Linked DNA regions of Homo sapiens. The protein of the gene in region 1 interacts with the protein of each later gene in a pairwise test. Each region holds a gene or a part of one and is shown on either strand. Other genes may lie near its edges. The genes, in order: UPK1B and SLC16A2.

The links.
Region 2: the proteins of UPK1B (region 1) and SLC16A2 interact in a two-hybrid assay, tested with the Homo sapiens proteins (one large-scale study listed by BioGRID).

What each region holds. Positions count from the first base shown.
Region 1 is NC_000003.12:119,193,999-119,197,820, reverse strand, and holds part of UPK1B (uroplakin-1b), read right to left. Parts: intron 3,603-3,822; coding exon 3,423-3,602; intron 1-3,422. UniProt on the Homo sapiens protein: Component of the asymmetric unit membrane (AUM); a highly specialized biomembrane elaborated by terminally differentiated urothelial cells.
Region 2 is NC_000023.11:74,518,680-74,522,501, reverse strand, and holds part of SLC16A2 (monocarboxylate transporter 8), read right to left. Parts: intron 1,513-3,822; coding exon 1,368-1,512; intron 1-1,367. UniProt on the Homo sapiens protein: Specific thyroid hormone transmembrane transporter, that mediates both uptake and efflux of thyroid hormones across the cell membrane independently of pH or a Na(+) gradient.

The DNA.
Region 1 (3,822 bases):
CCATCCTACTCTATATACTCACCCTGCCTTATTTCTGCTCATGGCCTATTTGGGCCTGGAATTTTATCATGTATTTGTTTGGTAACATGTTTATTTTCTGTCTCCCATGCTAGAATGCAAGCTCCATGAGGGCAGGGATTTTATGTTGTTCACTGTTGAATTTCTAGAACCTAGAACAAGTGCTTGGCACATAGTAGACACGTAATAAACATTTACAGAATGAATGGAACATTAATGTTTACAATAGTATAATTTGCAACACACTTGATGGTTCACAAAACACTCCCATATCTGCTACTCCTTGGTCCTCCCAACAATCCTGGGAGGTGGTCGTTCATCTAATAATATATATATAAGGGCCCACTTATGCCAGGTGCCAAGTACTGGCTGGGCATTTAGCTGTGGCAAACAGAAATGGGCCTTGCCTTCATGAAGCTCACAGACAGAAGCCCCATTTTTTTCACCATCATTTAGTGCCTTTTCGTGATGCTAGTCAATTTAGTGGTACTTTACTTGATCTTCCTTCATTTTATTATAACATTTTTGAGGTATAGTGATCACAATTTGCACATAGCATTTCTGAGTCACATAAACCATAACATAGAATATATATATATTTGCATCTGACATGCTGTGTGAAATTCTAGTTAATTTCTACTATTAACAAGCTTATAGTGACTTCCCTAATTTTGTTAGTCTTCACAGCTATAGCAGCACATTTGTGCATTGTAGATCCTGAAAACCTACAATATGGTTGTCAAAAAGTGAAGCCTGGGCAACACAGTGAGACCTCATCTCTACAAAAAATAAAATTAGCCAGGCCTGGTGGTACATGCCTGTAGTTAGTTGGGAGGCTGAGGTGGAAAGGAGGATCACTCGAGCCCAGGAGCTTGAGGCTGCAATAAGCTGTGATTGCAGCATGGCACTCCAGCTTGGGTGACAGAGTGAGACCCTGTCTCTCAAACAAAACAAAACAAAAACCAGGCTGGGCACGGTGGCTCACTCCTTTAATCCCAGCACTTTGGGAGGCTGAGGTGGGTGGATCACAAGGTCAAGAGATCGAGACCATCCTGGCCAACATGGTGAAACCCCATCTCTACTAAAAATACAAAAATTAGCTGGGTGTGGTTGCGTGCACCTGTAGTCCCAGCTACTTGGGAGGCTGAGGCAGGAGAATCACTTGAACCTGGGAGGTGGAGGTTGCAGTGAGCCGAGATAGCGCCACTGCACTCCAGCCTGGCGACAGAGTGAGACAGGCTCCATCTCAAAAAAAAAAAAAAAAAAAGAAAAAGAAAAACCATTCACTATTCACTTCTTTATTCACCCATCTATCAAACGTCGGTGCTTGCTTTGTGCCAGGCATTATGCTAAGTACTAAAAATATCAAATCTGTAGAATCAAATAATACATAGTCCTCAAGGAGACTCAGAAAAAATAGACTTGGGAACAAATATAGTTCCAGGTAGTGAATGCAATAATAGAAATAAAGTATACCAGGTCTTGGGGTAGCACCTTTTTCTTGGTGGAAAAGGATGGCAAGAGGGGACTTAGCAAGACCTATGAGTCAGGGAGAATGGTGGTGTGTGGGAATCTGGGAGGCTGGGCTAGGGAGAATCAGAAAGGACTAATAGATAAGAGATTATGTCAAAGGAGCAGAATGAGTGAGGTTGAGAAACAAGGAGCACAGGAAGTCAGGAACAGAGAGAGGAATTTCAGAATTCAGGAATTTGGTGGAGGAGTAGGGCTGAGTGATGATGAATTTGTAGTTGGTAGGTAGTGGAGGTGGAGTTGTTAGAACAGATAAAGCCAGGGAACTGTAGGGTAGTGGAGGTGGAATTGTTAGAACAGATGAGGCCAGGGAACTGTAAGGGAACGTGTTAGAAGCATTGTCAAAATGGGTGTGGAGGTCCCAAGGTAGAGGAAAATAGTTCATTTGTATCTTTTCCTCAATTTCTCATCTATCTAAACTTGAGAAAAGCTTCAGGTTTGTCCTCATAACTAAAATATTATATGTGCTAGGAAAAAAGGTATAACTATGAAATAAACTGGTTATCTGAAGACAAATGTCCTATTTTTATCCCTTTCAAAGAGGTAATACAGTTTGTACACAATTACAATCCAATCAAGATTTGTTTGCATGAGCAGTTCCAGTGTTGAAATATCAAAAGCCTTTTATAGTCCTGAGAATAATTATATTGTACACCTTGATTATAAGCAGCAAATTTAATTTTTAATAACAGTCTGAATATAATTGATTAAAACAATGCCAGACAATGTTGCAGTAAAGCTCAATGAGGGTTGCTCTGGACACTGCTGCAAAATAATCTAGAACACTCCCATGCCCTTTTCTGGAATAATGCATCCAGTTCTAGTCCAGGCACCCTGTCAGCAACAGTGCCATGTCCCTCAATCTGAACATGCAGTTTGTACTGCTCCCAAACAAAACAGCCTGACATTTCTCAATTATTTAATGAGCTGGTACACAACTAGCTTTCCTTAAAGAGGTAACTCCCTGAGCAGAGCACAGCGTTTCAGTGTACAGGGTCAGCAGATGCTGACTACAAGTACCTGGAGGTTCTCATCAGGGCTTTTGGGGAATATTAACAAGTCTTCACTGGCTTAGAGTCTGTGCTTGAAGGCAGAAAACTCATGTTTCAAAAGCCAGAGAGTTTTTTGAAAAGACGGACATTTACTAGTTGTGTGACCTCAGCAAGGTATTTATTAGTATCTCTACGTCTAAGTTCTTCGTTTGTAAAACAGGGATCCTACTGGCACCTACTACTGAGCATTAAAGGAGATAGTGTATGTGTGGCACTGGAAACAGTGTTTGGCATTTAGTAAGTACACAATAAATGTTAGTTTTCATGATCGTAATCACATTATCCTCATCAGCCTGGAAACTTTTTCAAAAACTATCTGTATGTAAACTACCTTCCATCCAAATCACCAACCTAATGTTTATTAAGACTGTCCTACTTTACCATTGAATAAGGAATGTGGATGTGTAATTACTACATTTATCCTCAGCAATAGTCATTGCTTTGGAATTGGCAAAACATTCTTTTTGCACATCATCCCTTCCAATTTACATTTTGCAAAACTAGAGCAAAACTTTGTTTAATGTAAATATTTCTTGACATACCAATTCCATACATTGTGCAAATTGTCTTCATTTAAACAAAGTTGGGTTCTGCTATTGCAATTCTCATGTTTTGTTAATTTTATTAAAATGTAAATTTGCCCCTATCAGTCCTGGTTTAGCATTTGCAGTTTATTAACAGAGAAGGAAATAGTTAACATGAGGTTTAGGGAAAAGAATGTAGAATTCCTTACTGAAAGACTATTTCCTACAGTTGACCAATATTTTTCTCATAAAGAGCAGCAGAACCTCCTGGGAAGTCTTGGGAGGAGAGAGGACTCACCTGATTGTGATAAAAACCAGGCACGCCTAGTTTACAAGCCTCCAGGTTGAGAGGTTCTTTAAGATTGTTCATAACACAGCATTGACGAGGCCAGGGATAGTCAGCATCATTATTCTCAGTCCGGAAGGCAGATGTGTATTTTTGCCAGTCTGATGGACCATTTACGCCACAGCAATTGTCCTGTCAGCAGATGAGAGATACAAAATTCTCTTTCGTGGTCCCTACTAGAGCCATCAATGTAGCAACTGAAATTTTATAGAGAAAGAAGATACGGAAAGTGTACCATATCTTACATTTACTAAGAAATCCCCAAATGACAGCTGAAGGTATTGATAACTTACAACTTACATTTTACAGTTTGTAAAAGAATTTTTACACTTCCTACTTTACTAGTCATTAG
Region 2 (3,822 bases), on another chromosome or scaffold:
GTGAATGAGGCTGACCACCAGAGGGGTTCTGAAAAGGTTTGGAGCTGCTGCCCTGGGAGTGCTGAGTAGTTTCCAGGCAGGACACGGTTTTTCCCTTCTCTGTCCCAGTTGGACAGGACGAAGCCAAGAAATGACTGCAGGCCAAATCCAAGCTCTGCTGTAGGGTAGGCTGGGCAGCTGGAAATGCTCAAGTCATAAAGAAAGCTGGCTTACCTCACAGGGCCCAGTTAAGGCAAAACACAATTATCATTCTCTACTGTGAGTGGAACCTTAGGCCTAGAGAGCCATGACGCTTTTCTGGGTAACTAAGCTCAGAAAGCAAGTCTCTGACAAATTAGCTCTGACCTCATCCCAGACATGTCACCACGGCCATTTCTCATTTCTGTGTTTCCAGGCTGGCATTCCCCTACATCGGCCCAAGCAGATTGGAAGTAGGAGGTACCATAACTTCCAAAGTGTCTTTGGCAGAAAGTCAACAGAGTTCTTTAGGAATTCCATATTCCTCAGGCTGTGGTTAGGGTATTTATTCTCCCTTACCCTACACACATTCTTCTGCAGGGCTGGCAGAAAAGAAAGCAGAAAATGAACCTAGAGCCTGCTTCTCACCTGATACTGCCAAGTTCTGCCAGTGGAACCAGTGGGACTAGGGTTTCAGTTTAGCCCAGGCCTAGCTGGGTAGCTGGGTTCTGGGTTTGTATCTCAGTAAGGGATATTGCTAATCATCCTTCTGATGCCCATGATGTAAATCATTATCTGTCCCAAATCATCCATATGTCAGCAGCCTGAGCTATCTGGAAAAGAGTCAGAAATGCTAAACATCCTTGGGCTCAGTTGACCTCTTTTTTCAGCATAAGATTCCTTTGGGAATCCTGTGCTAGGTGTTCACATGGGCTCACTCGAGAAGCTCAATCTTGGGATGGAAAGTGAGGTTGTGAGATGTGTGGCACACTGAAGGGGAATCAAATAGCAGAGTTGAAAGAGATGTAAAAAGACCATATGGTCAAATCCCCTCATGTTACAGATATAGAAATTGAGGCACAGAGAGAACAATGGTACTCATCAATTGTTCCATTGCCATTCAGTGGCCAAAACCGGACTTGGGCCCAGCTCTACGAACTACCAGGCTTAGAGTACTCCTACCACTTTGGAACTCTTAGGTCCTCTCTGGGGATATTCCCTACCAATGTGTCCTGGGGACCCTACCCAGATGAATTCACTGGATTCTGAATCCAGGGTGCAGGATCTTTGAGGGCCCTACAGGGCCATGGCCACAGGGGATTCTGCAGTGAGAAAAGTAACCCTAGCTAAAGCCCAGAAAAAAACCAACCCTCAGCCTTGGGGAAATAACCACCAACTCTTAGCCTTACCTGGTGAAGGAGCTGGTATGGAGGCCAATGAAAGCAACGGCAGCCCCCGCGGTTGCTGTGATTCGGCAGCCCAAACGGTCAGTGAATATACTCACAATGGGAGAACAGAAGAAGATCATACCCATCGCGAGGGCTCCGACCCATGCTGCAGAGAAAACAAGTGCAAAGACACTTTAGCTTAGTGTAGTGCCTGGTGGTACTGCTGGTATCTCAGCTCTTCTTCTCTGGCCTTTCACAGGGGGCATTGCATTGGTCTGCATTGCCAGCTTGCTAGTCCCTGATGTTCAGAGAGTTTTGCAAGAAGAGACTAGATATAAAACAGGGGATTCTATCACTGCGGTAAGATTTGGACTAGTCAATATTTCAGGCCTTTCCAGGGATGCTAAGCCAGATCTATAGCCTTAGGTTCTAAGCCACTGGCTTCAGGGGCAAAAAACATTGGGGTTAAGCTTTCAGGAGCTAAGGTCAGGCTTGTCTCCAGCATTAGAAGAACCCTGTGAAGACGATAAGACTAAGGAGTAGAGAAGGCCACAGACAAAAGCCCCCTGGAATTGTACTAGGATACAAGGCAAGTTCATAGGCCACCTAAAGATTTCTAAGGACACTGTGCAAGAGTCATGTAACCCTCATGCTGAAATCCGTCATCAGAGCCCATGTTTGGCAAATTCCTGACTTCAAACTCAAGCAGATATTATCCTGTTTCTAAAGGCTCTTAAGTGTCTATAACAATCCTCACTAAGGAGGAAGGAACTTGCCCTTTTATTTAGATTCTTCCAGACTGTTTCCCTTTGCTCAGCCCTCAGAAGGAAAGTTCAAGCTTTTTTTTTTATTTCGTCTGAAGGCTGTTATCAAGTTTCATCTTGAGCCTCTCTTTTCTCCGCCAAATAATCTTCGTTTCCTTAACTTTTCCTCTTAGCTTTAATTTCTAACTCTGAAATTAATTTCAGAACTCTCCTTTGAACACTTCCAGCTCTTCATCATCATCATCAAAGAGTGACACATGAGCTAGGCACTGGGCCAACTTCTGGCTCTCTCCAATTGTGGAGCCCCAATGGGCCAAAGGAGCTCAGTCTGGGGCTAGTCAACTGGCTGTGTCTCTTACCTCAGTGCCAAATAGGTTGCTCAGCTCCCCATTGGGAATCTTTACTTTGTTGGAGCCTTACCCTGAGCCCTCTCTGCCTGGCTTCAAAAGTACTAGCCTGGGACAGCAGGAGACCTTAACTTTTTATCACAATTTCACCTCTTACCTTGCCATTTCATCTCCTATCAGCTGTGAGATCTTGAGAAGTCACACAGCATTTCTCTAATCCTCAGTTTTCTCATCTGTGAAATGGAGATTAAAATTTCTGCTTGTGCCTGCCTCAAACATTTCTTTTTCTTTTTCTTTCTTTCGTTTTTTTTTTGTTTTTTTTTTTTTTTGAGACACAGTCTTGCTTTGTCACCCAGGCTGGAATGCAATGGCCCGATCTTGCCTCACTGCAAGCTCCGCCTCCTGGGTTCACACCATTCTCCTGCCTCAGCCTCCTGAGTAGCTGGGACTACAGGTGCCTGCCACCACGCCCGGCTAATTTTTTTGTGTGTTTTTAGTAGAGACGGGGTTTCACTGTGTTAGCCAGGATGGTCTCGATCTCCTGACCTTGTGATCCGCTGATGATCAGGGCCAGGCGTGGTGGCTCACGCCTGTAATCCCAGCACTTTGGGAGGCCAGGGCAGGCAGATCACGAGGTCAGGAGATAGAGACCATCCTGGCTAACACAGTGAAACCCCGTCTCTACTCAAAATACAAAAAATTAGCTGGGTGTGGGGGCGGGCGCCTGTAGTTCCAGCTACTAGCGAGGCTGAGGCAGGAGAATCGCTTGAACCCAAGAGGCGGAGCTTGCAGTGAGCCGAGATCTCACCACTGCGCTCCAGGCTGGGTGACAGAGTGAGACTCCATCTAAAGAAAAAAAAAAAATCAGATAAAATTATATGTATAAGAAGAGAACTTTGTAAATATCAATAATCACATCATGTTTAAAAATCAATGCAAAATGGATCATAGACTTAATGTAAAACTTAAAACTATAAAACTTCTAGAAGAACATATAGGAGACAAATCTTCCTGGCCTTTGGTTAGGCAAAGATTTTGCAGATATTCACAAATCGTATGATCCATAAAAGAAAAGATTTGATATATTAGACTTGATCAAACTTGAAAACTTCTGCTTTTCAAAAATAGTTATGAAAATGAAAAGGCAAGCCATAGACAGAAAAATTTTGCAGCACACAAAATCTGACAATAGACCGGTATCCACCATACAAGAGTGAGTTGACTCTCATAACTCAATAATAAAGCAAACAATCTAACTTAAAATATGGGCAAAAGAATTGAACAGAGATTACACAATTACACATGTGCACATACATTTATGATATGAATAGTAATTAAGCATATAAAAAGATGCTCAACATCACT